Homo sapiens: one gene and its partners. The protein of the gene in region 3 purifies or fractionates together with the protein of the main gene of each other region. This does not show direct contact. Each region holds a gene or a part of one and is shown on either strand. Other genes may lie near its edges. The genes, in order: ARCN1, ATF2, SACM1L, CIAO2A, MYORG, SCFD1 and TMEM98.

Region 1 (4,415 bases), on a different chromosome or scaffold from region 3:
GCCTCTGTCTCACTCAAAGCAACCACTAGGAAGAGCACAGCGGCTTTAGTGAATCAAGAAATTTATCCCAATGTAACCCTGTTCATTTCATACAGAACAGGGCATATAAAGAGTAAATACTTGGCTGGGCACGGTGGCTCACGCCTATAATCCAAGCACTTTTGGGAGGCAGAGGCAGGCAGATCACTTGAGGTCAGGAGTTCGAGACCCACCTGGCCAACACGGCAAAACTCTGTCTCTACTAAAAATAAGAAAATTAGCCGGGTGTGATGGCGTGCACCTGTAATCCCAGCCACTTGGGAGGCTGAGGCAGGAGAATTGCTTGACCCCGGGAGGTGGAGGTTGCAAGATCGTGCCATTGCACTCCAGTCTGGGAGACAGAGCAAGACTCTGTCAAGAAAGAAAGAAAGGAAGAAAGAAAGGAAAGAAGAAAGAAAAAGAGTAAATACTCCTCTTTTATGCACACCTGATAAAGGTATCCTCCTGGTATTATCTTTCACTTGACCTCAAAACCATCAGCAACAGTAGAAGGTCTGGCTTCAAGACGAGAAATCTGAGTCACGAATATGTGAACTTGATAACTACCACTTAAAAATGTCACCAACCAGTACCACAGCCCTGAGATAAGAGATGAATCAAAATATTCCATACTGGCTTCAAATATTTAAACTGCAAAAGATGGCTGGGCATGGTGGCTGACGCCTGTAATCCCAGTACTTTGTGAGGCCGAGGCAGGCAGATTGCTTGAGTCCAGGAGTTCGAGACCAGCCTGGGCAACAAGGCAAAACCCCATCTCTACCAAAATACAGAAATTAGCCCAGCGTGGTGGTGCATGCCTGTAGTCCCAGCTACTTGGGAGGCTGAGGTGGGAGAATCACTTGAACCTGGGAGGCAGAGGTTGCAACAAGCTGAGATTGCACCACTGTACTCCAGCCTGGGTGACAGAGTGAAACCCCATCTCAAAAAAATAAATAAATAAAATAAAAATGCAAAATATATTAATTTGCTATTAAAGATATCTACAAGTTTTGGATTAAAGATTGGTTCTACTTAGACTTTAATTAGAAAAAGTCATGCCAAAATACAGTGTGGGGTCACCATAGCTCTAGTCCCCTAATTCAAGTGCATTCTAAGAGATACGCTATATACCAGGTGTGACTACAAGTAACTTTAATTTAGCTGTAAAAGGAAAGTTCTAAACTTCATAGAAAATAGGTGGCTGAGGGCCCCCAATCATGGTTTAAGGAAAAAGGAAAAGGTCAGGTGCAGCAACGCATGCCTGTATCCCAGTTACTTGGGAGGCTGAGGCAGGAAGATTAACTGAGCTCAGGAGTTGGAGGCCAGCCTAGACAACATAGTAAGACCCTGTCTCAAAAAAATAAAACAAAACAACAGCCGGGCGTGGTGGCTCACGCCTGTAATCCCAGCACTTCGGGAGGCTGAGTCAGGCGGATCACAAGGTCAGGAGATCGAGACCATTCTGGCTAACACGGCGAAACCCCATCTCTACTAAAAATACAAAAAAATTAGCCGGGCGTAGGGGTGGGCGCCTGTGGTCCCAGCTACTCGGGAGGCTGAGGCAGGAGAATGGCGTGAACCTGGGAGGGAGAGCTTGCAGCGAGCCGAGATCACACCACTGCACTCCAGCCTGGGTGACAGAGTGAGACTCCATCTCAAAAAAAAATAAGTAAATAAAACAAAACAAAACCAAAAACGATCTTATGTTAATATGTAGAATCTGCTCTGAATAAATCTTTTAAATCAGGAACGATTAAAAGACAGAGAAAGAATTTATAGCACACTGAAATAAGATTTTTAAAAAATTATGTGGACTGTATTCAAAGCTTGAATTCTTACTCAAAGTTCCTACTTACCTTTCCATATTAATGGGTGGAGCATGCATTTTGGTTGCTTCAGAAGTACGCTTGCCCATACTAGAGGACATGATGGTTTCACCTTCAGATTTTAATTTGTCCACAAAGTTATCTACTTCCTTTCCTTTGGCTCCAAGTTTTAAAGCCTTGCTGGGGCCTGAAGGCCTAAGTGGAAGAATTTGAAATTCATTACCCAAAGGTTTATTTTTACAAGCACACATGATCTGATGAAAATTTTGTATCTCCCGTCCAGAGAAATACACCTGTGCACAAAATTTTGTATATAATTTTGGGTAATTCACAGATTTCCCCTAAAATCAATCAATGAACATCAAGATTAAAAATCTACATTCCATAAAGCATTAAATAGCCCTTTCCTCCCCACAATAAGGCAACTCTCATAGGAAACTGAGGTCATGACATAATTTATAACTCTCTTTTATACAAAAGGAAAAACACCACATTCAGATTTCTTCTTTATCCTCATATTGTATGTGGCCAAATGTAACATCATATCTTACTTCATCAAGTCCTTCTTTATTTACAGCTTTCCAAGAAATCAGATTATGACTTCAAAGATAGACACATATACACCCTTCACCTGGTATTCTAAAGTACACTGGATTATACCTGGCTGGTGCAGGTGCCACTTTTGGTTTATCAGTTTCAATGATGGTCTCTGTGATCATGGCAGCTGTGCTGCCTCCAGATACTGCAGAGCTGCCAAATCCGCCAAATCCTGGTGCTTTTTTGCCCTGTCTCTCTGCATCTCTTCGGGCCTGTTGTAATTCCTTTGCTTTACGACGCATCTCAGCCTTAGCTTCACGTTCTTGAGTCTACAGAAAAAGACATACATTAATGTAGCTTTTTTTTTTGGGTTTTTGTTGAGACAGGGTCTCACTCTGTGACCCAGGCTGGAGTGCAAGTGGCACAATCACAGCTCACTGCAGCCTCAACTTCCTGGGCTCAAGTGATCCTCCCATCTCAGCCTCCCAAGTAGCTGGGACCCACATGCACGTGCTACCATGCCTGGCTAATTTTTTTTTTACTTTTTATAGAGACAGGGTCTCACTACGCTGTCCAGTCTGGTCTTGAACTCCTGGACTCAAGTGATACTCCCACTTCCGCCTCCCAAAGTGCTGAGATTACAGACATGAGCCACTGTGCCTAGCCTGGACATAGTTTTGAATACAGTCTACATTAGTAAGTAAAAATAGGAAAATGAGATTAGTGAAGCCTAAGAGAAAGACATACAAACAGGTAGTCCCAGAGAAGATCCTATTTACCTCTCTGACGGCTCTGAACACCTTCTCCTCATGAGAATCCATTTCTGTGAAGGTTCTGATCTGTGCCAAGTTAACATTCTCCCGGTATCCCAGTGCGACAATTTCATCAAAAGCAAAAATCAAATCAAAACAGTGCTCAGATATTTCATTCTCTTCTAAGGCTCGGCAATATTCAGGGATCTAAGCGTGGACACCAATAAAAAAGAAAGATTTAGAATTTATCAGCAGCTATATTTCCAAGTCTTATCCTTTAGAGTACATAAATTTCAATAACCTAAATCCCTTTATTAGCTACTTCTAGTCTTTATTTTATTTTTTGGGACAGAGTCTCGCTCTGCTGCCCACGCTGGAGTGCAGTGGTGCCATCTCGGCTCACTGCAACCTCCATCTCCTGGGTTTAAGTGATTCTCCTGCCTCAGCTTCCGGAGTAGCTGGGACTACAGGTGTGTACCACCACGCCCAGCTAATTTTTGTATTTTTAGTAGAGACGGGGTTTCACCATGTTGGCCAGGCTGGTGTTGAACTCCTGACCTCAGGTGATCCGCTTGCCTCAGTCTCCCAAACTGCTGGGATTACAGGCGTGAGCCACTGCGCCCAGCCTAACTCCCTGATTTTTTTTTTTTTTTTTTTTTTAAGACAAAGTCTAACTCTGTCACCCGGTCTGGAGTGCAGTGGCACGATCTCGGCTCACTGCAACCCCCACCTCCTGGGTTCACGCAATTCTCATGCCTCAGCCTCCTGAGTAGTAGGATTATGGGTGCCCGCCACCATGCCCAGCTAATTTTTTTGTATTTTGAGTAGAGACGAGGTTTCACCACGTTGGTCAGGCTGGTCTCAAACTTCTGACCTCAGGTGATCCACCCGCCTCAGCCTCCCAAAGTGCTGGGATTACAAGCGTGAGCCACCACGCCCAAGACCCTGATTCTTACAGCCGGGTGCAGCGGCTCATGCCTGTAATCCCAGCACTTCGGGACGCCAAGATAGGCAGATCACCTGAGGTCAGGAGTTCGAGACCAGCCTGGCCAACATGGTGAAACCCCGTACAAAAATTAGCCAGGCATGGCGATGCACATCTGTAATCTCAACTACTCGGGAGGCTGAGGCCAGAAAATTGCTTGAACCTGGGAGGTGGAGGTTGCAGTGAGCCGAGATTGCACCATTGCACCACTGCACTCCAGCCAGGGCAAGAGCGAGACTCCGTCTTTAAAAAAAAAAGAATCAGGGTCTTGCTGTGTTGCCCACACTAAAGTATAAT
Region 2 (4,415 bases), on a different chromosome or scaffold from region 3:
CTTTTCTATGTCTAATAGACATCTTAAACTTAATAGGTCAAAATCAGAGTCCTTGATTCTTCCCCCAGTTTTCCCCATCTCAGTAAATTTTCTCCATCCATTTAGTTGTTCTAGCTGAGAATTTAGGGGTCATCCTTAATTTCTTCTTTCTTTTACACTGAAACTAACAGCATATTTTATCAGACCTGAATCTCATCCTCTATGTCTGTGTTCAGTGACACCACGTAAGCCCAAACCATCATCATCTTTTGTTTGGATTATTAACAGTTACCTTCTAACTTGTCTTCCTGCTTCTACCTCCAATCCATTTTCTGTAAGATGACTTTTAATACATTAAATATGTCACCTGCTTAAAATCTTTCAATGGTCTACCATTGTATTTAAAATAATTCACACTCCTTGGCATAAGCCCTCTTTGATCTGGGCCTGTCTACGCATCTATCCTTACCTCATGCCTCTCTATTGTGTTCATCAAATATTCAAAGCTTTTTCCTACCTCAGGACATGACATATATGGTATTGCTTCCTTCTCCCTACAATGAAATGCTCTCCTCCTCATCCTTTTATCATCAGTTCGAATGCTGTTTTTGCAAAGAAGCTCACCTATTCTTACTATGCTGTCTAAATTAACTGACTCTTCCTTACCTTCAGCTAATCTTTCATCCTTTGTTACATTGCACGTATTATTCTGTAACACTTAACATTTACTACAATCTGAAATTTTCTTACTTGTTTTACTTGTTTATTGTCTCTTCCTTGAGAGCTAGTCCTTGGGAGCATAAGTTCTCAACTTACTGAATAAATGAAGTTACAATACTACTACTTTATCCTTCTTCCTATGTAGCTTAATAAGATTTTGATGATAAGTGGCAGCATACAGGCCAATTCATAAAACACCATAGACCCAATTTTTACACTGACTATTTAAGGAGTTCTGGGTAAAATCTTTTAAAACTTTTTGTTCTATAATTTGTAAAACCAGAGGAAATACCATCTTTAAGGTCTTGGCTGACAAATTCTGTTTTCCTGACTTGAAAGAGTTCACTCCGGTAATTATTTATTTTACATTCAAGATATCAGTATTACGTGGCCTTTTGATATGAAGAAATTATTGATATAGAAGAGGTAGCTAACTGGAATTAACAATTATTTGTATTGCTCTAAAAGTTCTTATTTCTGTTACTTAATTGTATCAGCCATAACACAGTCTCACTGGACCTGTTTCCTCTTCATACAGTATAATGAGGGAGGGGGACTAAACAGTCCCTTCTGGATTTTAAGTTCTGTGATTCTCTGAGAATGGATTATATTTTTATTTTTTATTAAAATTCTCTTGGTATCATAGCCAAGTTGCCCAGTCTAACTTATTTCTGGATTGATAGGAGAACAAGTTGTACTGGAAAAAAAAAAAACGAGTCTTTTTAAAATTAAAATATTAATTGAACATTGCATTTGAATCTTTACAGCTCTTCTAAAATGTTCTTTTAATTAATTTGAGATATTAATTTGCTTTTAGCAGTTATTATTCTGTAGATGCTTTTAGAAGTGTGTTACATTCTGTTCACTAAGGTACATGATTTGTATTTTTAAATGCCACCCTTTTTTATCTCATTGTTAAATAGGAAGTACCATTGGCACAAACTGCACAGCCCACATCAGCTATTGTTCGTCCAGCATCATTACAGGTTCCCAATGTGCTGCTTACAAGTTCTGACTCAAGTGTAATTATTCAGCAGGCAGTACCTTCACCAACCTCAAGTACTGTAATCACCCAGGCACCATCCTCTAACAGGCCAATTGTGTAAGTGATTCAGGCCAATCATTGAACATATACATGAATTAAGTTTGTTTTGTAATGATTTTTCCTAAGACATTTGATTATTCAAACTAAGATCTTAGTTTTGTATGTGTGTGCATGCTTCGAATTTTGGAAAAAGTACTTGCGTAGTCTTCTTTAATATAAATATTAACTAACAGAGTGGGAGATAAATACAACTAAAAACAAATATAGAATGTGAATTTAAGATAGTCTTATTTTCATGCTATTTCACACAAAATATAAAATTACTGCATCACCAGATTCCATTTCTTTCAGTTCTTACTGGTAGCTCCCAAGAGCTCTCTGATGACAGTTTTTCTCATTTTACAAATTGGAGATTGTCCTAAGTAAATCCATAACTTTTCTCTTCTTTTCAATACTGCTACACAGGTTATGCATTTAAGATGCAATTAAAAATAATTAAATTTTGCTATTTGCTTTGCTGTGGTTAGAAAATGTATTTTTAAATGATATGATTATAGGAGTAAAAATACTATTGTATTTTTAAGAGACAGTTGGTATGAATCTCTTTTTTAAAATTTCTCTTCTTTTGTTTTTCTTAGCCCTGTACCAGGCCCATTTCCTCTTCTGTTACATCTTCCTAATGGACAAACCATGCCTGTTGCTATTCCTGCATCAATTACAAGTTCTAATGTGCATGTTCCAGCTGCAGTCCCAGTAAGAAAGTTAGACTATTTAAATCTCTATCGCAAAACTGATCTTTGTAGTCAGAAAATAAAGTTGGCTGCTTGACTGGCTTATGAAATTGAATTTAACATAATATTGATTAGCAGTTGATAGTATTTATTTGTTATCATTGTAATAGCATATACCATTCAAGGTATAGCTATTTTTTCTCTTCTCCCCAAAACCTTAATTTTTTTTTTATACTGAGATCTTCTTATTCAACCCATATCAATTTGACTGGACTTGTAGCATTCAAATATTAACACAGATTTCAAATTTTAGAAAGATATTTGTACTAGAATACTTGTCAGGTAACTCTGTGGTATTTCTATTAGTATGGAAATTGTTTATAAAGACACACTCTGAATTTTTGTGGTCAAGTAGGGTTTGTAGAATCTTTGATAGCCCAGCATGTTAAAATGTAAATGTTCTAGAAAAATAATCTTTCACTTTCCCTGTGAAAAGACCCCGCAAAAAAGTTTTTTGAGGGGTGTGTTAAATATATAAATTTTGAAAGACGTAGACAAAATAGTTAACTATCTACTTATGATATTTAATAGTTTGGCCAGGCATGGCAACTCATGCCTGTTGTAATCCCAGCGTATTGGGCGGCTGAGGTAGGAGGATTGTGTGAGCCCAGGCGTTTGAGACTGCAGTGAGCTATGGATCCTGCCTGGATGACAGGGCAAGACCCCAAGTCAAAAAAAAAAAAAAAGTAATAGTTTAATGAACATTTAAAAACACATTGTTTGGAATAATGTGTGTTAGAAAATTGCTTTTTTCTTACTTACATTACATAAAACAGTTTTATTCAAACAAACTCTTCAGTTATGTCTTTGACATTCAAATTTTCATCCTGAGAACCACTTTTTGAGACATCTAGCACAGTTTCCAGAACACAGTATTTTCTTTTTCATCTAAATCATTTACGATATTACTTTATGAATCTCTCTATTATTCTCTCCCTGGAAATCTTACACCAAGCATTAGGTACTTATTTATGTAATAAAAAGATAGTTTTTTCTTTTACCTTCTAAGATGCTTGTTACTGATCAGTACAGTGTAATCATTTACAGTGTAGCTTTTAAAAATTATTTTTAGGCCAAGTGCAGTGGCTCATGCCTGTAATCCCAGCACTTTGGGAGACCAGGGTGGGTGGCTTGCCTAAGTCCAGGAGTTCAAGACCAGGCTGGGCAACATGGCAAAACCCCATCTCTACAAAAAATAAACACAAATTAGCCAGTTGTGATGGAAGCACCTGTAGTCTCAGCTACTCAGAAGGCTGAGGTGGGAGGATCACTTGAGCCTGGAGGTTGAGACTGTAGTTAGCCGAGATTGCACCACTGCATTCCAGGCTGGGCAACAAAGTAAGACCTTGTCTCAAAAATAATAAAAAATAAAACTTATTTTTAAAAGCTTACTTATAGTAACATTCCAACACTTTCGGTGAGATTACCCCCAAGAATATTACTAGGATTAATGTTTGATATTTATATCTTTTTTTAATTAACTAATTCTTCCACGTGATCTTTCAAACTATCCAAAATTAGCATTGATTGACGTAATTTCAAGATAATGTGCCTTCTTTAAAAAGAACTTTGTTCAAAATGCATTATTTGAGAGACTTTGTAAGGACTCAGATATAAGGTATCTGCTTCCTCTTTACTGAGAATATTTTTTTGAGGAGGGAAACATTCTTGCCTTGTTTTTGAGATTCTGATTATCCTGTTACATGTACCTAGTGATGAAAGCAACCGGAAATGAAAGAAAAGATATGCTTTATTTATACAGTAACTGTGTTCACTCAGTGTTAGGTTTAAGAAAAAAAAGGAAAAAACCAAAATGGTAAAACCTGTTACAGATTATTTCAGAAATTATTACAGTGTGTTATTTGTTATTATGTGGTATG
Region 3 (4,415 bases):
CCTAATGGTGGTGCTGCTGTTACCTCCATTTTGTGGATGAAAAAGCTTACTATTTAAAGTTCTAGAGTTAGTAAGTTGCGTATGATGCTAAGGCTAGCAAACAGATAGTTTGCTTCCTGCATCCATATTCTTAACCACCACACTGTGTGTTGTCAGATTTTTGAATTCATAGAATTATCAAGGAGCTTGTTAAAGAAAACATGGGAACTGGTAACTGTGGTTGGTTGCAGTGCAGACATCTGGATGTTTAAGGGGAGGAAGGGAAACTGATTTTTCAAATAATACCCAATTGTTCTTTATAAATCTTGTACTATTTGCATGTATTACCCATTTAAGAATTTTTTTTTTTTTTTTTGGCTGGGGGCTGTGGCTCACGCCTGTAATCCCAGCACTTTGGGAAGCCAAGGCAGACGGATCACCTGAGGTCAGGAGTTCAAGACCAGCTTGGCCAACATGTCAAAACCCTATCTGTACTAAAAATACAAAAATTAGCCAGGCATGGTGGTGGGTGCCTGTAATCACAGCTACTCAGGAGGCCGAGGCAGGAGAATCACTTGAACCTGGGAGGCAGAGGTTGGAGTGAGCTGAGATCATGCCACTGTGCTTCAGTCTGGGTGACGGAGGGAGATTCCATCTCAAAAAAAAAAGAAAAAGAAAAAAAATATTTTTAAGTATTTAAAAAAAATTTTTTTTAATTTAGATACAGGATATCGCTCTGTCACCCAGGCTGGAGTGCAGTGGTGTGATCATAGTTCACTGCAACCTTTAACCCTTGAGCTCAAGTGATCCTCCCACTTTAGCCTTCTGACTACAGGTAGGCACCACCATGCCTGGCTACGTTTTTGTTCTTTTAGAGGCAGGGACTCGTTATGTTGTCCAGGCTGGTCTCGAACTTCTGAGCTCAAGTAATCCTTCCACCTCAGCCTCCCAAGTAGCTGGGATTACAGGCACGCACCACCACGCCCAGCTAAAAGTATTTTTAATGCAAAATATTCAATCCTTGCCTCAGAGATTCTGATTCAGTTGATCTCAAGGCCAGGAATCTTTTTTCACAAGCAACCCAGAGGATTCTAAAGATAGTATATGAATCATAAAGCCCTGACATCTAGGGATATAGTTGGAATAATTATGTTAGAGGAAACCCTCATCTGGCTTTGGGAAACATGATTGATTTGCACAGCAACCTTTTTAATACTCTTAACTTTACTTTTTCACATCTTTGGGGTGAGATGATCTCTAATCTTCAGCCATTTTTTGGATGGAGGGCTGTCTTGCCTCAGCCATTTAGACTTCTTTTTGGTCTAGGATAATCACATATGCCTGACCACACATTCCTGTCTGACCTTTTAATTTACAGTTTTTAATAATGTCACTGAAATGAGACCCATGTTATAAGAGTTAAGTCCTTAGTAAATCTGACCTACTTTGGTATGAGAGTGTTTATACAAATATGTTTTAGTTATTTTCTAGTGGACTCTGCTGGCCAGGTGGTGGCAAACCAGGAAGGCGTGTTCCGAAGCAATTGCATGGATTGTCTAGATAGAACCAATGTGATCCAGAGTTTGTTAGCTCGTCGTTCACTTCAGGCCCAACTTCAGGTGCGAATGCTTTTTTTTTTTTTAATTGAAAAACAACACAGCAAAAAATTAAACATCTTTAAAACCCAGTAACAAAAAATATTCACATTGCCCACACCCTAACCCAGCTCTTTTTATTTTTGTGTCTTGCCCATGGATGTCACATTTTCCATAACTAGGGTCAGTCTGTGTATGCACAGTTTTCACTTTTGCCATTTTCCCTTAGCATTTATGTAATCACAGTTTCTGGTGGTTGTATTGTTGTGCCGTAATTTACTAAGCCATTCAGATTGCTACATTTTTGGTTTATAAATAACACCGTAGAGAATATATCTGTATATGTTATTATTAACTTGAATTATTTCCTTCATGTTAATTCCTAGAAGTGGAATTACTGGGTTAAAGAGAATAAATATATTATTTTCCAAGAGCGTCATACCAGTTTACACTGACACCAATAATGAATCAGTAAATCCATTTCATTGAACTCTTCCCAGCATTTGATATTTTAATTTTTTTTTTGTTTTTCCTTGAGAAAGTGTCTGGCTCTGTTGCCCAGGCTGGAGTGCAGTGGTGCAGTCTCGGCTTGCTGCAACCTCTGCCTCCTGGGCTCAAGCCATCCTACTAACTCAGCCTCCCACAAAGCTGGGGCTACAGGCATGTGCCACCACACCTGGCTAATTTTTGTATTTTTTTTTGTAGAGACAGGATTTCACCATGTTGCCCAGGTTGGTCTCAAACCCCTGGGCTCAAGCAGTCTACCTGCCTCAGCTCCCAAAGTGCTGGGATTACAGGCTTGAGCCACTGTGTCTAGCCTCTTTTTTTTCTATTTCGTTAATACAAAAGTAGCACCTCAAGATTGTTTCTATTTATCTCTCTCTTATTACTAGCAAGGAATATTGACTCCAAAGTAAAAAGTTTCTGACACAGCTTTGCTTTACCACTAGACTATGCTGTTGAGAAAAATGGTTTTTTTCTTCTGTGTATATTTGGAATGAAAAAGATGTAGAGCCCCAATTTTTAAATCACATTGGCATTTGTTGTGAGGGGCAGACAAAATGCATACCACATGGTTTCCTGTTCAGGTAATTAGTAAGCATTCAGCTTTATTTCTGACAATTGTATGATACCGAGAAAGAAATTATGGAGGTAAAATACCCCCTTCAGAATGAATTGTTCTTGAATCTTAAAGTCACACCTGCCAGAGGAGTGCTGTCCCTGTTGGAGTAGTCTGTAGTTTGTATTGTGCTATGTCCTCGTCTGTTGGAAGGTCTTCTAAGTGTAGTTTTTAATAGAAACAATATTAGGAATGGTTTGGTTCCATGGCTGATTAACCAAAACTTACTTGACTAGGCTCTGCAATCCATATTTTACAATTTTACATGCTATATATAGTATTATGAAACCTAACCAACCTGCAGAGAGTGGGGGCAGGAGCCTCTCCAGCAGCTTTGCCTACTAGTGTAGGGGCTGTCTACTTGTGCCTCTCCAAGTCTGCCAGTGAAGGCAGAGTTCTTACCCAGCTAAAGGTCACCAAGGTGGCTCCTGTGCTGTGTCTGAGGGTGGGAATGACTCCTTCTGAGGTGGAGATGAGGTGTCATCTGAGGTAAGCAATGAAGATGGTGGTTCTCAGAAGTGATGGTCTGAGACAAGGCAGGGACTTGTCATCTGTGGTTGGTGGTCTCCAAAGGGGAGTCTATAGAGGGGATTCAGGGGGCCCAGCAACCCTGGGATATTCTATGTCTGTGTGTGTGCACTTTTGGGGAGGTAGATTAGGTGGCACTCATCAGATTCTTAAAGGTCCCTGGGACAGAGGGTAAGGCTGGGGTGACTCAGGGGTGAAGAAGTTGAGGGATGATGCATGTGAGGGGGTCTCAAGGGGTAGAGGCAGTAGAAGACTGGGGGTAAGAGGGAGGGAGGAAGTAGCGGCTGGAATCCTATAGCAGCTTTCACTCTCTCTTCTGACCCTCTCCCTGAGTATAGTCCTGCTGCTATCCCTCAAGGGAGTGCGGGGGCTGCAAGGCAAAGGTGCCCTCAGGAGAGGCTTTGCAGTCTGCCCTGGGCAGGAGAGGGCTGCTGTGAGCTGGGGCCCCCTATAGACAACAGACATTTCTGGCCTGCATCCAGCAACCAGGCACCATGAGATAAAATTTGGGGACTGCTTTTTCTTCCTAAACCATGTCTGCTAAAATCTATTACACATAAATCTGGGTGTGGTTTTTTATTCCAGAGACTAGGAGTTTTGCATGTGGGACAAAAGCTTGAAGAACAAGATGAATTTGAGAAGATTTACAAAAATGGTAGGTCATTTCTTTAATATAGACAAAGTTGGTCAGATTTTGAAATAAATTAATATTCTGGATTTAGAACTTTGTTTGTCATCTTAATAATTATCAGCTGTTTTTACTTTTTTCTACAGCCTGGGCTGACAACGCAAATGCTTGTGCCAAGCAATATGCGGGAACTGGTGCCTTGAAGACTGACTTTACCAGGCAAGCCATGCTTTTAAAATAGCATTCCACATCAGTAGTTCACAGTCCTGGTGCTTTTAAAAATCACCTGGGCAGCTTTCAGACAGCAGCAGCAACAACAGCAAGACTCCAGCATCTGGGCCTCACTTGAGACCTGTGGAGTCAGGATTTCTGGGAAGTGAGGCCCGGGTACTGGTGTGTTCTTAGCCACCCTGGGAGATTCTGATGCTTGGGGAGGGTTGAGAGCCACCGCTCCACAGTGCTCCTCAGACCTTACCGTGTACCTGAAGCACCAGTCTTGAGATGTGCTCTAAAAAGCACCCAGGTGATGCTGATGCTGCTTTCAAAGACTGCACTGAGTAATGAG
Region 4 (4,415 bases), on a different chromosome or scaffold from region 3:
AGGTTGTTTCTACTTTTTGTCTATTATGAGTAATGCTGCTATGAACATTCATGTATAAGTTTTTGTGTAGGCATATATTTTCATTTCTTTTCCACCTGTGAGTGGAATCGCCCGGTCCTATGGTAACTCTGTGTTTAACATTTTGAGGAATTGTTTGTTTTCCACAGTGGCTGCACCATTCTGCGTTCCCACTTCTCCACATCCTTGCTAACATTTATTATTATCTTTGATTACAGGCATTCTAGTGGGTGTGAAGTGATGGTTTTTTGTTTTTGTTTTTTGAATCAGAGTCTCACTGTCACCCAGGCTGGAGTTCAGTGGCGCCATCTCAGCTTACTGCAACCTCTGCCTCTCAGGTTCAAGCGATTCTCCTGCCTCAGCCTCCCGAGTAGCTGGGACTACAGGTGCCCACCACCACGCCCAGCTAATTTTTTGTATTTTTAGTAGAGACGGGGTTTCACCATATTGGTCAGGCTGGTCTTGAACTCCTGACCTCATGATCCACCCGCCTCGGCCTCTCAAAGTGCTGGGATTACAGGCATGAGCCACTGTGCCTGGCCTTGTTTTTGTTTTTGAGACAAAGTCTTGCCCTGTCGCCAGGCTGGAGTGCAGTGGTGCAATCTCGGCTCACTGCAACCTCCGCCTCCAGGGTTCAAGCGATTCTCGTGCTTCAGCCTCCCAGGCAGTTTGGATTATAGGCATGTACCACCATTCCCGGCTAATTTTTTTTTATTTTTAGTAGAGACAGGGTTTCACCATGTTGGCCAGGCTGGTCTTGAACTCTTGGCCTCAAGTGATCCACTGCCTCGGCCTCCCAAAGTGCTGGGATTATAGGCATGAGCCACTGCACCCTGCTGTCATGGTGGTTGTGATTTTTATTTCTCTGATGGCTAATAATGTTGAGAACCTTTTCATGTGGTTTTTGGCCATTTGTGTATCTTTGGAGAGCTGTCTATTCAGATCCTTTGCCCATTTTAAAATAAGGATGTCTTTTTATTATTGAATTATAAGAGTTCTTTATATAGTCTAAATACAAGTCCCTTGTCAGATATGATTGGCAAATATGTTCTCCCATTCTGTGTGTTGTCTTTTCACTTTCTTGATGGTGTCCTTTACAGTACAAAAGTTTTAAATTTTCATAAAGTCTAATTTGTTTTTAATTTTTTAACTTGTGCTTTTGGTGTGATAATCTGAGGAAGATGTTTTTAACCCTACTATTGAGCAAGAATATGGATATCACAGTTAATTCATAGTAATTGGTTATCGCTCGTGAATGATTCGGCCTTGTCTCTTACTGCCTCTTGTAATTGCTGGGCAATTATGCCTTCTCTACCTGGCTGCTACCTAGCCTTTACACAGAGTACCCTGTCTACTTGGAGTTCCCTTCCTCCCATCTCATATGTTCAAATCCTACACATCTTTTTTGTTTGCTGTTGAGACAGGGTCTTGCTCTGTCTCCCAGGCTGGAGTGCAGTGGTGTGATCACTGCTTACTGCAGCCTCTATCTCCGAGGCTCAGCCTCCCAAGTAGCTAGGACTACAGGCGTGCACTGCCATGCCTGGCTAATTTTTTCTTAATTTTTGGTAGAGATGAGGTCTCTCTTTGTTGCCCAAGCTAGTCTCAAACTCCTGGGCTCAAGTGATCATCTTGCCTTGGCCTCTCAAAGTGTTGGGATTATAGGCATGAACCACTGGGCCTGGCCAAATCCTACCCACGTTTTAAGGCCCAGTGAAATACTATTTTATTTTCCATGATATCAGTCCTGATTTCTTTCTTCTTTTTAAGATGAATTTTTATTTATCTTTTAAATTTTTTTTTTTATTTTTTGTATTCACCTTTCCATACTACTAGTCCTGATTTCTGTAACTAAAGCTATTTCTTTTTTTGAATTGCCGTGGCTCTTTCTTTTTGTTTTTTTTAAAGACAGGGTCTCACCCTGTTGCCCAAGCTGGAATATAGTGGTATGATTACAGCTCACTGAACCTTTGATCTCCCAGGCTCAAGTGAGCCTCCCTCCTTACCCTCCCAAGTAGCTGGAACCACAGGTATATGCCACCATGCCCAGCTAATTTTATTTTTTGTAGTGACAGAGTCTCACTATGTTGCCCAAGCTGTTCGTGAACTCCTGGGCTCAAGCAGTCCTCCCGCCTTGGTTTCCCAAAGTGTTTCGGATTACAGGCGTGAGCCACTGCACCCAGCCCCGTGGCTCTTTCTTTGTCTTCTGATGTAGAGAGTGTCCTTTTCTAACTTGTGTTCTGTTTGTTTTTCATCTTCCCTCCTGGACTGTCAACTTCTCTCTCTTTTCTTTTTTTTTTTTTTTTGTTTGCGATGGAATCTCGCTCTGTCGCCCAGGCTGGAGGGCAGTGGTGCGATCTCGGCCCAGTGCAGCCTCTGACTCCTGGGTTCAAGCGATTATCCTGCCTCAGCCTCCCAAATAGCTGGGATTACAGGCGCATACCACCACACCCAGCTAAATTTTTGTATTTTTAGTAGAGACAGGGTTTTGCCATGTTGGCCAGTTTGGTCTTGAACTCCTGACTTCAGGTGATACACCCGCCTTAGCCTCCCAAAGTGCTGGGATCACAGGCATGAGCCACCATGCCTGACCAGCTAGCTGTCAGCTTCTTGAAGTCAAGATTCATATATGATACATCTCTGTGTTCCTGCTATGATCTTATACATATTTGGAGCTCAATAAATACGTCTTAAATTGAGTAAATTAATAAATTATTATACTAGTGGTTTATGATGCCCTGTAAATTTTATTTTTCATTTTTAACTGTTTTAATTACAATGTTTAACTTTTTATTTGAAATGAAAATAATGAAAGAAAAGAAATAAAATAGTGAAGAATAGTACAAAGAAATTCCATATATCCTTCACCCAGATTCAGATTCACTAATTGTTAACATTTTGCCACATTTGGTTTATCATTAATTTCTCTCTATATATGTACACACACATACACATATTTTCTGGAAATGTTTGAGTGCATTTGTAATGCCCCCTTACTCTAAATACTATAGGATGTATTTCCTGAAAACAAGGACATTCTCTTACATTACCACAGTATAAATTTCTAAACCAGGACATTGATACAGTACTGTCATCTCATCTACAGCACGTATTCCAATGGGTAACATCCTTCATGGCGGTCCCTCCTCCTGGCTCTGCTCCTCTCCCCCATCATACATTGCATTAGTTGCCATGTCTCTTTAGTCTCATTTAATTTAGAGTAGTTCCTTAGCCTTTATTTCATGATCTTGATATTTTTGAAGAATGTAAACCAGATATTTTATAGATTGTCCCTCAAATTGAGTTTTCTGATGTTTCCTGGTTAGATTCAGTTTGTGCATTTTTGGCAAGAATACTGAATAAATGTGTTCTCATTGCATCACATCAGAGGCCTATAAATTCAGTTTGTCCCATTATTGGTAACAGCTCCCCTCATCAATTGGTTACCCTGAAGTATAGTTCATATAGGAATAGCTGCATAAATGCTGCCTTTTCCCCTTTATCACTTTTAGAATAATGAGTCCTGTGTAATTTTAAACTGAAGTAAGTCAGTATAGAGTGATTCTATACCTGTTGCTTTGAGGTCTAGAATAAGAGTGTTTTGCTACTAGGAGAAAGGTGTTTTGTTTTGTTTTGTTTTGTTTTGTTGAGACGGAGTCTCGCTCTGTCACCCAGGCTGGAGTGCAGTGGCGCAGTCTCAGCTCACTGTAACCTCCACCTCCCGGGTTCAAGGGATTCTCCTGCCTCAGCCTCCTGAGTAGCTGGTAATACACGCCCGGCTAATTTTTTGTATTTTTAGTAGAGTTGGGGTTTTACTGTGTTAGCCAGGATGGTCTCGATCTCCTGACCTCGTGATCCGCCTGCCTCGGCCTCCCAAATTGCTGGGATTACAGGCATGAGCCACCACGCCCGGCTTGTTTTGTTTTTTAAAAAAAATTGGGGCCAGGTGCAGTGGCTCACGCCTATAATCTCTGTACTTTGGGAGGCCTAGATGGGCGGATCACTTAACCTCAGGAATTCAAGACCAGCTTGGGCAATATGGCGATACGCGGTCTCTACAAAAAAATAGAGACGAGGGAGGAGAGGGGTGGGAGTGTGGGAGCTGAGGTGGGAGGATCACCTGAGCCCAGGAAGTCGAGGCTGTAGTGAGACATGATCGCGCCACTGCACTCCAGCCTAGGCGACAGAGTAAGACCTGTCTCAAAAAAAAAAAAAAAAAAAAGATTGGACTAGATGACCTTTAAGGTCCCTTTTAACTATAATAAGTTATGATTTTTCTCACTCATGAGAAATGTTTATCTCCGTAGTAAATAAGTAAATAAAAATTAGTTCATATGTTCCAGTGTTCTCTGGAAAGTAGACGTCTTTATTACAGCATACTCTCTTTACCACAGGATTTG
Region 5 (3,500 bases), on a different chromosome or scaffold from region 3:
TGGGGACTTGATCTTATTTAAGGTCTCCAAATAGCCCCCACCACACTTAGAACGTGTGTTTTCTTAGTGTTAGAAGCCAGGCCCTGAGTCCCCAGCACTCACCTGAACTGTGGCTGATTTGGTCCCAGTCCAGCTGGGGAGGTGTTTGGCTGACAAGGAGGCAAGAGATCCCCTCCCAGGGAACAGGAGGACTGGGCTTAGCACAGAGCCATCATCATGTTCCCAATTTGTGAAGAGACTCCTAACACTGCACTAACCCATTTGTGTACATACATGGGCTCAGCCCTGGGCCAAATGTGCCTGATGGGAACAGACTTGCAGGGCCATGCAGGCCAGACTTCGTGCCTTAACTGAAGAGTGTGCGTGTGTGTGTGTGAGAGAGAGAGAGAGAGAGAAACACGCATCATGGGTCCCTGATCTATGAAATGAACACAACCTCTCTGAGGCTGGATGATCTGGAGGAAGGGGGCATGGAGCAAATTTGAGGCTCTGATTGCTGAGCCAGCCTCCTCCCAGGCGGTTTCCCCAGGACTCTCGTAGGAAATAAATAGCCCTTTCAAGATTCCTCAGCTGCCTCACCCCCTGCACATGTGCCTGGGGTGTGGCCTAGAAGGGAGTGATGTTCTTACTCTGGTGGTCTGTGCTTCTGAACACAGGCTACATGCACACACTGACAACTACCAATAAACAGACAGGGGAAGGTCTTTCATCTCAGCCATTTTCTCTTCCCCCCGCCCCCCCTTAGATGGAGTCTTGCTCTGTCACCCAGGTTGGAGTGCAGTGGCACAATCAGCTCACTGCAACCCCTCCTCCTAGGTTCAAGCGATTGAGTAGCTGAGATTACAGGCATGCATCACTATGCCTGGCTTTTTGTATTTTTTAGTAGAGATGGGGTTTACCATGTTGGCCAGGCTAGTCTCAAACTCCTGACCTAGTGATGCACCCACCTTGGCCTCCCAAAGTGTTGGGATTACAGGCATGAGCCACCACGCCAGCCATTTTCTCTTTCTAAGAAGAGCAACCTCAGCCGGAGTGAGTTTTTTCTGACTTTGCAGCTGAGTCTGGAGAAAAGTGGCATGCCAGAGCGGGTCGGTGGGAAACAGGGTGAACTTTAGCTTCCATCAACAGCTCTGGTAGCAAAACCAGTCCCCTACCCCCTAGAGAATGCATCCGTTTCCCCACCTGATATGGTTTGGCTGTGTCCCCACCTAAAACTCATCTTGAATTGTAGCTCCCATAATTGCCATGTGTTGTGGGAAGGACCCAGTGGGAGATAATTGAAATATGGGGGCAGTTTCCGCCATACTGTTCTGGTGATAGTGAATAGATCTCATGAGAGCTGATGATTTTATAAGAGGTTTCCCCTTTTGCTTAGTTCTCATTCTCTCTTGCCTGCCGCCATGTAAGACGTGCCTTTCTGTCATGCTTGTGAGGCCTCCCCAGCCACGTGGAGCTGTGAGTTCATTAAACCTCTTTTTCTTTATAAATTACCCAGTCTTGGTTATGTCTTTATCAGCACTGTGAAAATGAACCTATACAGTAAATTGGTACCAGTAGAGTGGGGCGCTGCTGTAAATACCCAAAAATGTGGAAGCAACTTTGGAACTGGGTAACAGGCAGAGGTTGGAACAGTTTGGAGGGATCAGAAGACAGGAAAATGTGGGAAAGTTTGGGACTTCCTAGAGACTTGTTAAATGGCTTTGACCAAAATGCTGATAATGATTGGGACATGAAATCCAGGCTGAGTTGGTCTCAGATAGCGATGAGGAACTTGTTTGGTACTGGAGTAAAGGTGACTCTTGCTATATTTTAGCAAAGAGACTGGCTGCATTTTGCCCCTGCCCTAGAGATTTGTGGAACTTTGAACTCGAGGGAGATGATTTAGGGTATCTGGCAGAAGAAATTTCTAAGCAGCAAAGCATTCATGAGGTGACTTGGGTGCTGTTAAAAGCATTCAGTTTTAAAAGGGAAACAGACTATAAAAGTTTGGAAAATTTGCAGCCTGATGATGAGATAGAAAAGAAAAACCCATTTTCTGAGGATAAATTCAAGCCCCCTGCAGAAATTTGCATAAGTAACAAGGAGCCAAATGTTAATCACTAAGACATGGGGAAAATGTCTGCAGGGCATGTCAGAGACCTTTGCAGCAGTGCCTCCCATCACAGGCCTGGAGGCCTAGGAGGGAAAAAATGGTTTTGTGGGCCAGGCCCAAGGTCCCCTTGCTGTGTGCAGCCCAGGGACTTGGTACCATGCATCCCAGCTGCTCTAGTCATGGCTAAAAGGGGCCAAGATACAGCTCAGGCCTTGGCTTCAGAGGGTGCAAGCCCCAAGTCTTGGCATCTTCCACGTAGTGTTGAGCCTGCAGGTGCACAGAAGTCAAGAACTGAGGTTTGGGAACCTCTGCCTAGATTTCAGAGAATGTATGGAAATGCATGTATGTCCAGGCAGAAGTTTGCTACAGGAGTGAGGCCCTCATGGAGAACCTCTGTTAAGGCAATGTGGAAGGGGAAGCCCCCACACAGAGACCCCACTGGGACACTGCCTAGTAGAGCTGTCAGAAGAAGGCCACCGTCCTCCAGACATCAGAATGGTATATCCACTGACAGCTTGCACCATGCACCTGGAAAAGCCACAGACACTCAACGCCAGCCTGTAAAAGCAACCGAGAAGTAGGCTGTACCCTGCAATGCCATAGGGGTGGAGCTGCCCAAGACCATGGGAACCCACCTCCTGCATCAGTGTGACCTGGATGTGAGACATGGAGTCAAAGGAGACCATTTTGGAGCTTTAAGATTTAACTGCCCTGCTGGATTTCAGACTTGCATGGGGCCTTTAGCCACTTCGTTTTGGCCAACTTCTCCCACTTGAAATGGGTGTATTTAGCCAATGCCTGTACCTCCGTTGTATCTAGGAAGTAACTAACTAGCCTTTGATTTTACAGGCTCATAGGTGGAAGGGACTTGCCTTGTTTCAGATGAGACTTTGGAGTATGGACTTTTGAGTTAATGCTGAAATGAGTTAAGACTTTGGGGGACTGTTGGGAAGGCATGATTGATTTTTAAATGAGAGGACATGAGATTTGGGAGGGGCCAGGGAGAGAATGATATGGTTTGGCTGTGTCCCCATCCAAATATCACCTTAAATTGTAGCTCCCATAATTGTGGGAGGGACCTGGTGGGAGATAATTGAATCATAGGGGCAGTTTCTCCCATACTGTTCTGGTGGTAGTGAATAAGTCTCACGAGATCTGATGGTTTAATAAGGGGTTTCCCCTTTTGCTTGGCTCTCATTCTCTCTTGTCTGCTGCCATGTAAGATGTGCCTTTTGCCTTCCACCATGATTGTGAGGCCTCCCAGCCACATGGAACTGTGAGTTCATTAAACCTCTTTTTCTTCATAAATTACCCAGTCTCGGGTATGTCTTTATCAGCAGTGTGAAAACAGACTAATACACCACTCCTCTACCTTCTTTATTTTCTCAGTGTGGAAAATGCCTGATGA
Region 6 (4,415 bases), on a different chromosome or scaffold from region 3:
TTTCATTATTTAAATAACACCTTTATTGAAATTATAATTTACATACCATACAATTCACACATTTAAGGAGCACAAGTGTATGGTTCATTGGTTTTTAATATAGTCACAGAGTTTTGCAACCATCACCACAGTCAATTTTAGAACATTGTCATTACCTCAAAAAGAAACCTGGTACCATTTATCACATCCTCAACCCTCCCCCATCCTCTTCCATCCCTAAGCTACCTTCTGTTTCTGTATATTTGCCTACTCTGACCATTACATATGAATGAAATCCTATAATATGTGGTCTTTTGTATATGGCTGATTTCTCTTAGCATAATGTTTCCAAGGTTCATCCATATTGTAGCATGAATTGGTACCTTATTCCTTTTCGTGGCTGAATATATTCCATTGTATGGATGTACGAAATTTTATTCATCCTTTTACCACTTGATGGACATTTGGATTGTTTCTACCTTTTGGCTATTAATAATGTTGCCATAAATATTCATGTGCAGGTTTCTCTGTGGACATGTTTTCAATTCTCTTGTGGCCGTAAACACATAGGAATAAAATTGCATGGTCAAATGATAACTCTATGTTTACCTTTTTAGTAATAGACTGTTTTGCGAAGTGTGGTTGCACCATTTTATATTCCCACCAGTAGTGTGTGAGGGTTCTGATTTCTCCAGATCCTTGCTGAACACTTACTATCCGATATTTTTATTGTAGCCATCCTAATAGGTTTGAAGTGGCATCTCATTATAGTTTTGATTTGCATTTCTGTAATTAATGATATTAAGCATCTTTTAACATGCTTATTGGCCATTTGTATGTCTTTCTAGAAATATCTATTCAGATCATTCACCCAGTTTTTAATTGGGTTGTCTTTTTATTGTTGAGTTGATAGAATTCTTTTTCTGTTTTGGATACTAGACACTCACAAGTTTATGATTTGTAAATATTTTCTCCCAGTCTATGGGTTATCTTTTCATTCTCTGGATAATGTCCTTTGAAGCACAAACATTTTTGATTTTGATGAAGCCCAGTTTATCGGTTTTTTTTTTTCTTGAGTTGCTTATGCTTTTGGTGTCATATTTAGGAAACCATTCCAGATTCTTGTGTTTTCTTCTAAGAATTTTATAGTTTTGGCTCTTACCTGTAGGTCTTGATTCCCCTTTGCATTATTTTTATATATGGTGGGATGTAGGTGTCCAACTTTATTCTTTTGCATGTGGCTATCCAGTTGTCCCAGCGTAATTTATTAAAGAGACTATTCTTTCCCTAGTGAATGGTCTTGGCAGCCTTGTCAAAAATCAGCTGACCACAGATATCTTGTTTGATTTCTGAACTCTCAGTTCTATTGCATTGATATCTATGTCTTTCCTTATGCCTGTACCACACAGTGTTGATATCTCTTGCTTGATAGCAAGTTTTGAAATTGAGAAATTGTGTCCTCCAACTTTGTACTTTTTTTCAGACTGTTTTGGCTTTTCTTGAATTTCCAAATTACGATTAGCTTGTCATAAGTTTTGTGCTTCTTTTGTTAAATTTATTCTTTCATGTGTTTAATGCTTATTATGAATGGAATTCTTAATTCCATTTTTAGGATTCTTCATTGCAATTGTATAAAAATTCAATTGATTTTTATGTATTTATCTTGTATCCTGCAACCTTGCTGAACTTATATGTCCTTTTGAAATGTATGCATCATTCTTTGACCACTTCCTTACTTTCTGGCACAATAAGATGTTCCAATATAGCCTAGGATTTTACTTTCTCTGTCTCAGCCCAGGATTCAGACATTTTTCTGAGGAGCTCTGGTTGCTTTCTGTAAAGAATGGTATTTAGGAATCAGGATCTAGGCATTAGGTATATTCATTGTGACTAGAGTGTCACTGTTCTTAGGTCCTCTCAATGGAAAAAGTTAGGAAATTATGTATTTATACATACACTTTTATATCTGTATTTATTTCTACAATTCTCCCTCTCTTCCCCTCACCTATCCAGATAAACAGATAACCTCCAAAACTGTTTCAGCTCAGCAACACAGGATTCACTCTAGCGTTTCCCTTTTCTCTTTACAAATTTGTAACTCCTTTCTCAGAGTGAAAAACATGGTTCCCAGTATCGTGAACATATTACTTATTTCTCAATCCTCATACATAAATAATTTCTTGACCTTGATTGAACCACTACCCTGATCACCTTCCTCACAAAGGCTCCAACCCCTCAATGTTTCACATTTTAACATCGCTAAAATCAGGTGCATCTTAAAATTGATCATGCCACAAAATTTTATTGGCATCATTAATTCTTAGTGTTACATAAAATGATGGTTCTTGTTACAGTCAATGACATCTTAGATTTAAGGAAGTATGGTTATTTCGATATCTATTTGCTAAAAGTATAAGAAGATAAGTAAATTTGACTTAAGAATTTGCATAACTTAAATTGCACTACTTTTGAGCAGTTGAAAAGAAATACCTCTAGAATTGGTAATTGGATTTATAACTTGTCTGTGTGCAATGAAGGATTTGTTGTGTCATCACATGTCCAGAACAGTTGAAGATCGTGTCTGCCAAATATAACAAGCATTTTACTATATTAGTGGACCATATCTGGATATTTTAAGAAGAATGCAGATAGGCTGTATGAAAGCAGTTTGTACTGTATTGTAATTAATGAGATTTTGTTGATAATATAATTTTATTACTTTATTAAGAAACATTTTAGTTACATCTGATAACCAGATAACCAGTACTACTTCAAAGGTTTTTTCTCTTGGGATACTTTTTTTGATTGTCATTTAAATATCCTGTCTTTTAAATATAACTTTGCCTTATAGTAGTTGAAACATATGTATTCATGGTCTTCTTTATCCTATAAGAATAAAGTTTTCATTGTATTGATAGGATCTTCGAAATCAACTATATGAATCATATTATTTAAATTTTATTTCTGCTATTTCAAGAAGTAAACTGGAAGATATTGCAAATGCAGCGTTAGCAGCTAGTGCAGTAACACAAGTAGCCAAGGTAAGAGAGTTTGGTGGGTTGATGACATTTTGTCAATGTAAAATTTAACACTGTTCTGAAACCCGTAGTTGGCATAGATATCTATTTGACAGATGACCAGAACAACAGAATTGTTTAGGCTCAATACTTTTATAAAGAGTTCTGATAATATAAATTATATTCAAGTTGAACTAGGCAAAATAAGCCAAACTAAAGGAACCTATTATTTAATGAATTTGAAAGACAGAAATAAAAAGCAGAATGAGTTTTGCTTTAGTCTGTGATTTGTATAATATTTTTAGGTCAACTCAGAAATCATTTGACAGTTGTATTGTCATAAACTGTATTGAAAGTATGTTGACATTGTTTTATCTGTAATCATTATAATCATCATACTATTTCCAGATATTTTTTTTACTTAGGAAAGAGGATCCAAAGTGCCCGTGTTGCATATTGAGATCCAAAGTGCCTCTGTTGCATATTAAGAGAAAAAGAACCCATGACAGGCCTGCAATTCTACATCATAGTGACTTTTTAGTCAGGTTCAGCTTCAGTTATAAATCAATTTGTAAAATATATTTCAGGTTATAATCCTGTAATGCTCTGTGTTTCTTGAATTTGGACAAGATATGCATTAAAGTTCCAGACAACTATCTAGGACAAATAAAAGACTAAACAACCATGCATATACTTTCTATTCTTTTTCTACTGATAGATTTTTCATTGTTAGAGTTAAATAGACCACTAATATTTCTGATTAGTTTTTGAGGCTTATGCCTTTAATCTTTGTGCTCAAAATTTATTAACTTCACATAAAATAATGGGAACAACTTTTGTTTTCCTTCTTGTTTTGTTTTGAGACAGTGTCTCGCTCGCCCAGGCTGGAATGCAGTGGTGCAATCACTGCTTGCTGCAATCTTCAGCTCCTGGGCTCGTACCACCCCACCCAGCTAATTTTTTTAATATGTTGCCCAGGTCTCAAACTTCTGGCCTCAAACAGTCCTCCCACCTCAGCCTCCCAAAGCTCTGGGATTACAGGTGCAAGCCACCTCACTCAGCCTTAATTTGGTTAACTAAATTCAGTGTATTTCAAATAGTTCTCTTAATTTTTCTCCTACTCTGCACTTCCAAAGAACTGGCATAACTTTTTCCCACTTTATTAGAAAAGTTCTTGGTGTAAAACAATTACTGTGACTTTTTTAGGAAAATGTGATGAAAATGATTGTTAAAATTGTATGTTTTCTTCAAAATTGATATCCATTCCCATCACAACCACAATTTAAGTTCTTGTATCTGCTTAAATTTTGTTTTCTGAAAATGTTATTCTCCTCCTTCATATTTATTGCCCAAAGACTTGTTTTTATTGCCTTAACTTACTCTTTACTCCTCATTCTTGTTCAATTAGGCTGTTACACA
Region 7 (4,247 bases), on a different chromosome or scaffold from region 3:
TTTTAGTACCTATGTTCTATCATCCTGTGGGTTGTAACCAATTAGTGGGCCGTGAAATTAATTCATGGGTCACAACTACCATTTTTTTCACAAAAAAAGATTTGAACTGGAAGAGAATGGAATGACTCTCATGTCTGTTCTTTCCTTTCCATGATGGATTTCCCACCTGCTGCACCCAGGCAGGAAGATGTGCCAGTTAAAAACACAAGTTGAGGAGTTGAAGATCCTGCTCTGATTCATATTAATTGTGAGACTCCAGGAGGGTTACTGATCTTTCTGCTTTGGTCTCCTTACCTGCAAAATTGGGATAATAAAAATACAAATAGGATGAAACAGGAAGAACCAGTTTTGCCTCAAATTCTGAAAATTGCTCATCAGCCTTTCTCATAGAAACACAGTAAGACCCACCAGAACAAACACAGCACAACCATATTATTTCCCCCGGCACTTTCTGTGTGTGTGTACATGTGTGTGTTTTGAGACAGGGTCTTGCTCTGTTGCCCAAGCTAGAGTGCAGTGGCTCTATCAAGATTCACTGCAGCCTCCACCCAACCCAGGCTCAAGCGATCCTCCTGCCCCTGCCACCTGAGTAGCTGGGACCATTTTCTGTTCTGATGCCTGACTCCTTCTTTGTCAAGTCTCCATTCAGGCAGCAGCTCTGCCCTATTTCAACCCCACCCCTGCCCTGTCCCTTCTCTGTGTGCCCACAGTCCCTCTTGTGGTCCCCTCCATCACAGCACTGGCTACAGTCATGGCTCCAGCAGTTGCTCATTTCTCTATCGCTCCTTAAGGGCAGGGATTGTGCCTTTTGTTTCATAGCTCCAGCATCTAGCACGAACCCTCTTCCACAGAAAGCTCTTGGTATGCATTTATTGGAGACAGGGAGGAGGTGAGGAGGATAGAAATTCTTCATCTGACACTTTCCCCACATTTCCAAGGCCATAAAGCAATGCAGGGCCTTTGAACTGTAGGCCATTTTCTAAAAGTCTGCTCGTGTGGGCACACAGGGTCTCTGGAGAGGGAACTCCTGGAATGAGGCAGGTCAGGGGGAGCACCAGGGGAAGTTGGATGCCAGGAATACGTGTTCCCTCTTGGAGATCTCACAAGCTGGGGGAATTTCTCTGGAGGAATGTGAGTTGCACAATCGACCCTTTGAACACTGATTAGAGGCGACGGCTTTGTATGTCTTCATATGAACAGACTTGTAGTGGGGCAGGGACAAGGCTACTCTCCCTACTGTAGGGATTCCAGATTTTTGGCCACTCAATTCCAGAGCCCATGAACAGAAGTCACTGCTTGGACCAAGCCATGGTAACTGAGGTGACGCCATCTGGGTCAGCGGCATCAGAGAATGGGAAGCTGTGGAGAGAAGGGTGTTAACATTGGCTAATCAGAACCAGGCCCACAATTGGGCAGCTCACACATACCGTTTTGCTTGTTGACATACCAACCCAATGACAATAGCCTTGACCATACAGATGAGAATGCTAAGGACCAGAATGTTAAGAACTTGACCAAGCTCACACTGTAAGTCACTGAGCCCAAATTCAAACCTAATTCTGACTTCAAATATCTTGTTCTCTTCACATTGAATCTCTATCTCCAAGTAATTTCTTTTTCATCAGAATTTGAGTCTAATGCTCCTATTCCAGGCCAGAGGGAAGAGAGACATGGAAGGAAGGCTCTACTACCATGTATACAGACGCTAGAGAACTAGGCACTTAGGAATGTGTCTGTTGCCTGGGAAACCACACCTGGCACAGAGACAGTCCTGAGATCCCTGGCACTCACTAACCAGCCCCTTCCAAGGGAGGAAGTAACTTCAGCCAACTCCCGAAGGGCCTAGAGGAGTGGCATTGCCTCCTACCCCAAAGACTGCTTCCACTTCAACCATCAGCCACCAACACCAAATTTATCCAGAGGCTTCTTACTTGTCCAGCACTAGAAAAAAAAACTACACAGCAGTGGGATCAGAAATCCTACAGTCCAGCAGACACCTCCAATATCTTCGGCAACCTCTCCTCACAACAGAAAGGGCAGCATCTAAGGGATCCAGAAAGCCAATGTGCCAGGACTTGCCAGGACTCAGAGAAGGTAATCGACATTGGGCATTGCTTCAGGGGTGCTGGGAAAGCTCTCCACCCTGCAGACCCACACCAGGTGGATGGTATTTGAGATACCAATTCAGAACTGCTTCTCTGTGGCTTAGGGCTCTAGTGCAGGTTAAAATGCAGGGGACACTTACAACTGTGGCAGCCATTGCAAACTTAGCATGAATTGCTTTCCAGTCTAATTACGAAAACAGGTTCTGAAAGGGAGGTAAAAAGACAAAAATAGGATGACTCTGGATGTTTACTGTGGAGGCCTCAAATAGAAAAGTCAAAGTGACTTTGTATACATTCCCCATTCACAGCTTGACAGGACGGGAAAGTTCACCACTTAACGTTTTTAAGAGTTGATGGAAGCCACCAATCCAATAAGGTGTCCCCTGGAGCCCATCCAGAATCCATCCTTTAGTCCATGAGAGTTGAGCTCCAGCTTCCCTCTCCTGACTCCATATCCCAGCTGTGGTTCTGTGGTTTGGTGTACATTGTGCAGGTTGGAAGTGGCCTGTTTTCCTGGAAAGAATGAAATGTGCCCAAATGGAAAGACAAACCAGGTCCCAATCTTGGATTTGGGAATATGGGTTCCTGGTTCCCCAGAATCCAGCTGAGGAATTTTCTGACTTCAGTTAGACAGAGAAAATGACATGGGAACAGATGTGCAACTCCAAACATGCTTGACAGCATAGGCTACGAACCTGGGCAGCCCCTATACCAGGCCCCTCTCCCAAGAGCAAGCTGGCTCTGAGAATCTGAGAAGTGAAGAATTCAAGCTTTTCCTACAGGCTTATGACAGAAATTATGCCATTTGGGTATGTATCCAAATTATATAATTGTGATTCTGGGTCATAGCTTTCATAATCTTTCAATGTTTGCAAAATGAACAGATATTAATATCAGAAGAAAGGGGGAACACATCGTTCAAGTCATTGCTATTGTTAATGTGGAAACTACTTCATAGTGCTATCTTCACTTCTGCCTGAACTCCAAGAGGTCTTTAAATATATTTTATATATATGTATGTTTTGGAGACATGGTCTCACTCTGTCGCCCAGGCTGGAATGCAGTGGCACAATCAGGGCTCACTGCAACCTTCACCTCCTGGGCTCAAGCGATCCTCCCACCTCAGCCTACCAAGCAGCCGCACGTGTCACCATGCCCAGCTAATTTTTGTAGTTTGTGTAGAGATGAGGTTTCACCATGTTGCCCAGGCTGGTCTCAAACTCCTGGGCTCAAGCAATCCACCCACCTTAGCCTCCCAAAGTGCGAGGATTACAGGTGTGAGCCACCGCGCCCAGCCTAAATATCTCATTTTGAGGCATACACAGAAATCATCCTCAGGATTCTTAGGCTCTCTCCTTCCATCTAAGTATGTCCCACAATACACCATGCATATGAATTTGACTCAATAACTACACACTTGAGGGAAACATAAGTATAAATTTACTATCCACCTAGTGGTAGCTAGGTAAAATTGCAGGCATAAAGATAAAAAAGAAATCATCAACTTTGTAGTTCCTCAGCTTCAAACCCAAACCTGCAAGGGAGAGGAGAGACCCAGACGCCTCAGGGACCAGGCAGATAATACAAATAAATGAAACAGGCCAGGTGAGAGAGTACAAGTCTTGCCAAAAGAAGAAACCCCTACTTAGTTTCAATTGATTGTCCTCTTCTGAAAATGCAGATCAGAATTGCCACACATTCTGACCGATCGAGAGAGGCCAGAAATTCTAATTTTAATGTGAAACCTCTTGATTTCTTAGACGGTGGCTCAATTTTCTTGAAAACACTAGGTGAGCTAAATAAAGCTGACAGTCCACCAGTTTTCAATACTCCTCTTGCAGAGAGTGAATGGCATCTCCCCTAACTGTAGTATTAGACTGCCACTCACCAGCCACAGTTTGCAACTGCAAAAGAGGCATAAACTGACGGGGATCTCCTGCTTTACTATGCACACACAGCTGAACTCTCCAGCCGTGGAGAACAACTAACTCTATAGGAAAAAGTAGAAGGCTAAGCTGAGCCATCCAGGGATGGCGGCAGGGGCCTTCATGGCTAGCTGCTGGCCTGTAGGCACTAAATTGCAGACTGCTCCTGCAGGAAGCCTTCAGGGCCTGGGAGGCCTTTATCTGGCTCAGAAGCTAG

Evidence for each region.
Region 1: the proteins of SACM1L (region 3) and ARCN1 purify together in Homo sapiens (co-immunoprecipitation; one study listed by IntAct). This does not show direct contact.
Region 2: the proteins of SACM1L (region 3) and ATF2 purify together in Homo sapiens (co-immunoprecipitation; one large-scale study listed by IntAct). This does not show direct contact.
Region 4: the proteins of SACM1L (region 3) and CIAO2A purify together in Homo sapiens (co-immunoprecipitation; one large-scale study listed by IntAct). This does not show direct contact.
Region 5: the proteins of SACM1L (region 3) and MYORG purify together in Homo sapiens (co-immunoprecipitation; one large-scale study listed by IntAct). This does not show direct contact.
Region 6: the proteins of SACM1L (region 3) and SCFD1 purify together in Homo sapiens (affinity purification with mass spectrometry; one large-scale study listed by BioGRID and IntAct). This does not show direct contact.
Region 7: the proteins of SACM1L (region 3) and TMEM98 purify together in Homo sapiens (co-immunoprecipitation; one large-scale study listed by IntAct). This does not show direct contact.

The regions. Positions count from the first base shown.
Region 1 is NC_000011.10:118,582,104-118,586,518, reverse strand, and holds part of ARCN1 (coatomer subunit delta), read right to left. Parts: intron 3,341-4,415; coding exon 3,161-3,340; intron 2,711-3,160; coding exon 2,505-2,710; intron 2,040-2,504; coding exon 1,875-2,039; intron 1-1,874. UniProt on the Homo sapiens protein: Component of the coatomer, a cytosolic protein complex that binds to dilysine motifs and reversibly associates with Golgi non-clathrin-coated vesicles, which further mediate biosynthetic protein transport from the ER, via the Golgi up to the trans Golgi network.
Region 2 is NC_000002.12:175,112,076-175,116,490, reverse strand, and holds part of ATF2 (cyclic AMP-dependent transcription factor ATF-2), read left to right. Parts: intron 1-1,622; coding exon 1,623-1,801; coding exon of another isoform or gene 1,802-1,805; exon of another isoform or gene 1,806-2,248; intron 2,249-2,382; coding exon 2,383-2,497; intron 2,498-4,415. UniProt on the Homo sapiens protein: Transcriptional activator which regulates the transcription of various genes, including those involved in anti-apoptosis, cell growth, and DNA damage response.
Region 3 is NC_000003.12:45,733,776-45,738,190, forward strand, and holds part of SACM1L (phosphatidylinositol-3-phosphatase SAC1), read left to right. Parts: intron 1-1,459; coding exon 1,460-1,598; intron 1,599-3,807; coding exon 3,808-3,877; intron 3,878-3,996; coding exon 3,997-4,069; intron 4,070-4,415.
Region 4 is NC_000015.10:64,076,546-64,080,960, reverse strand, and holds part of CIAO2A (cytosolic iron-sulfur assembly component 2A), read left to right. Parts: intron 1-4,415. UniProt on the Homo sapiens protein: Component of the cytosolic iron-sulfur protein assembly (CIA) complex, a multiprotein complex that mediates the incorporation of iron-sulfur cluster into extramitochondrial Fe/S proteins.
Region 5 is NC_000009.12:34,366,899-34,370,398, reverse strand, and holds part of MYORG (myogenesis-regulating glycosidase), read left to right. Parts: 3' UTR 1-3,500.
Region 6 is NC_000014.9:30,635,228-30,639,642, forward strand, and holds part of SCFD1 (sec1 family domain-containing protein 1), read left to right. Parts: intron 1-2,897; coding exon 2,898-3,020; intron 3,021-4,415. UniProt on the Homo sapiens protein: Plays a role in SNARE-pin assembly and Golgi-to-ER retrograde transport via its interaction with COG4. Involved in vesicular transport between the endoplasmic reticulum and the Golgi.
Region 7 is NC_000017.11:32,940,925-32,945,171, reverse strand, and holds the end of TMEM98 (transmembrane protein 98), read right to left. Parts: coding exon 4,179-4,247; 3' UTR 857-4,178; downstream 1-856. UniProt on the Homo sapiens protein: Functions as a negative regulator of MYRF in oligodendrocyte differentiation and myelination. Interacts with the C-terminal of MYRF inhibiting MYRF self-cleavage and N-fragment nuclear translocation.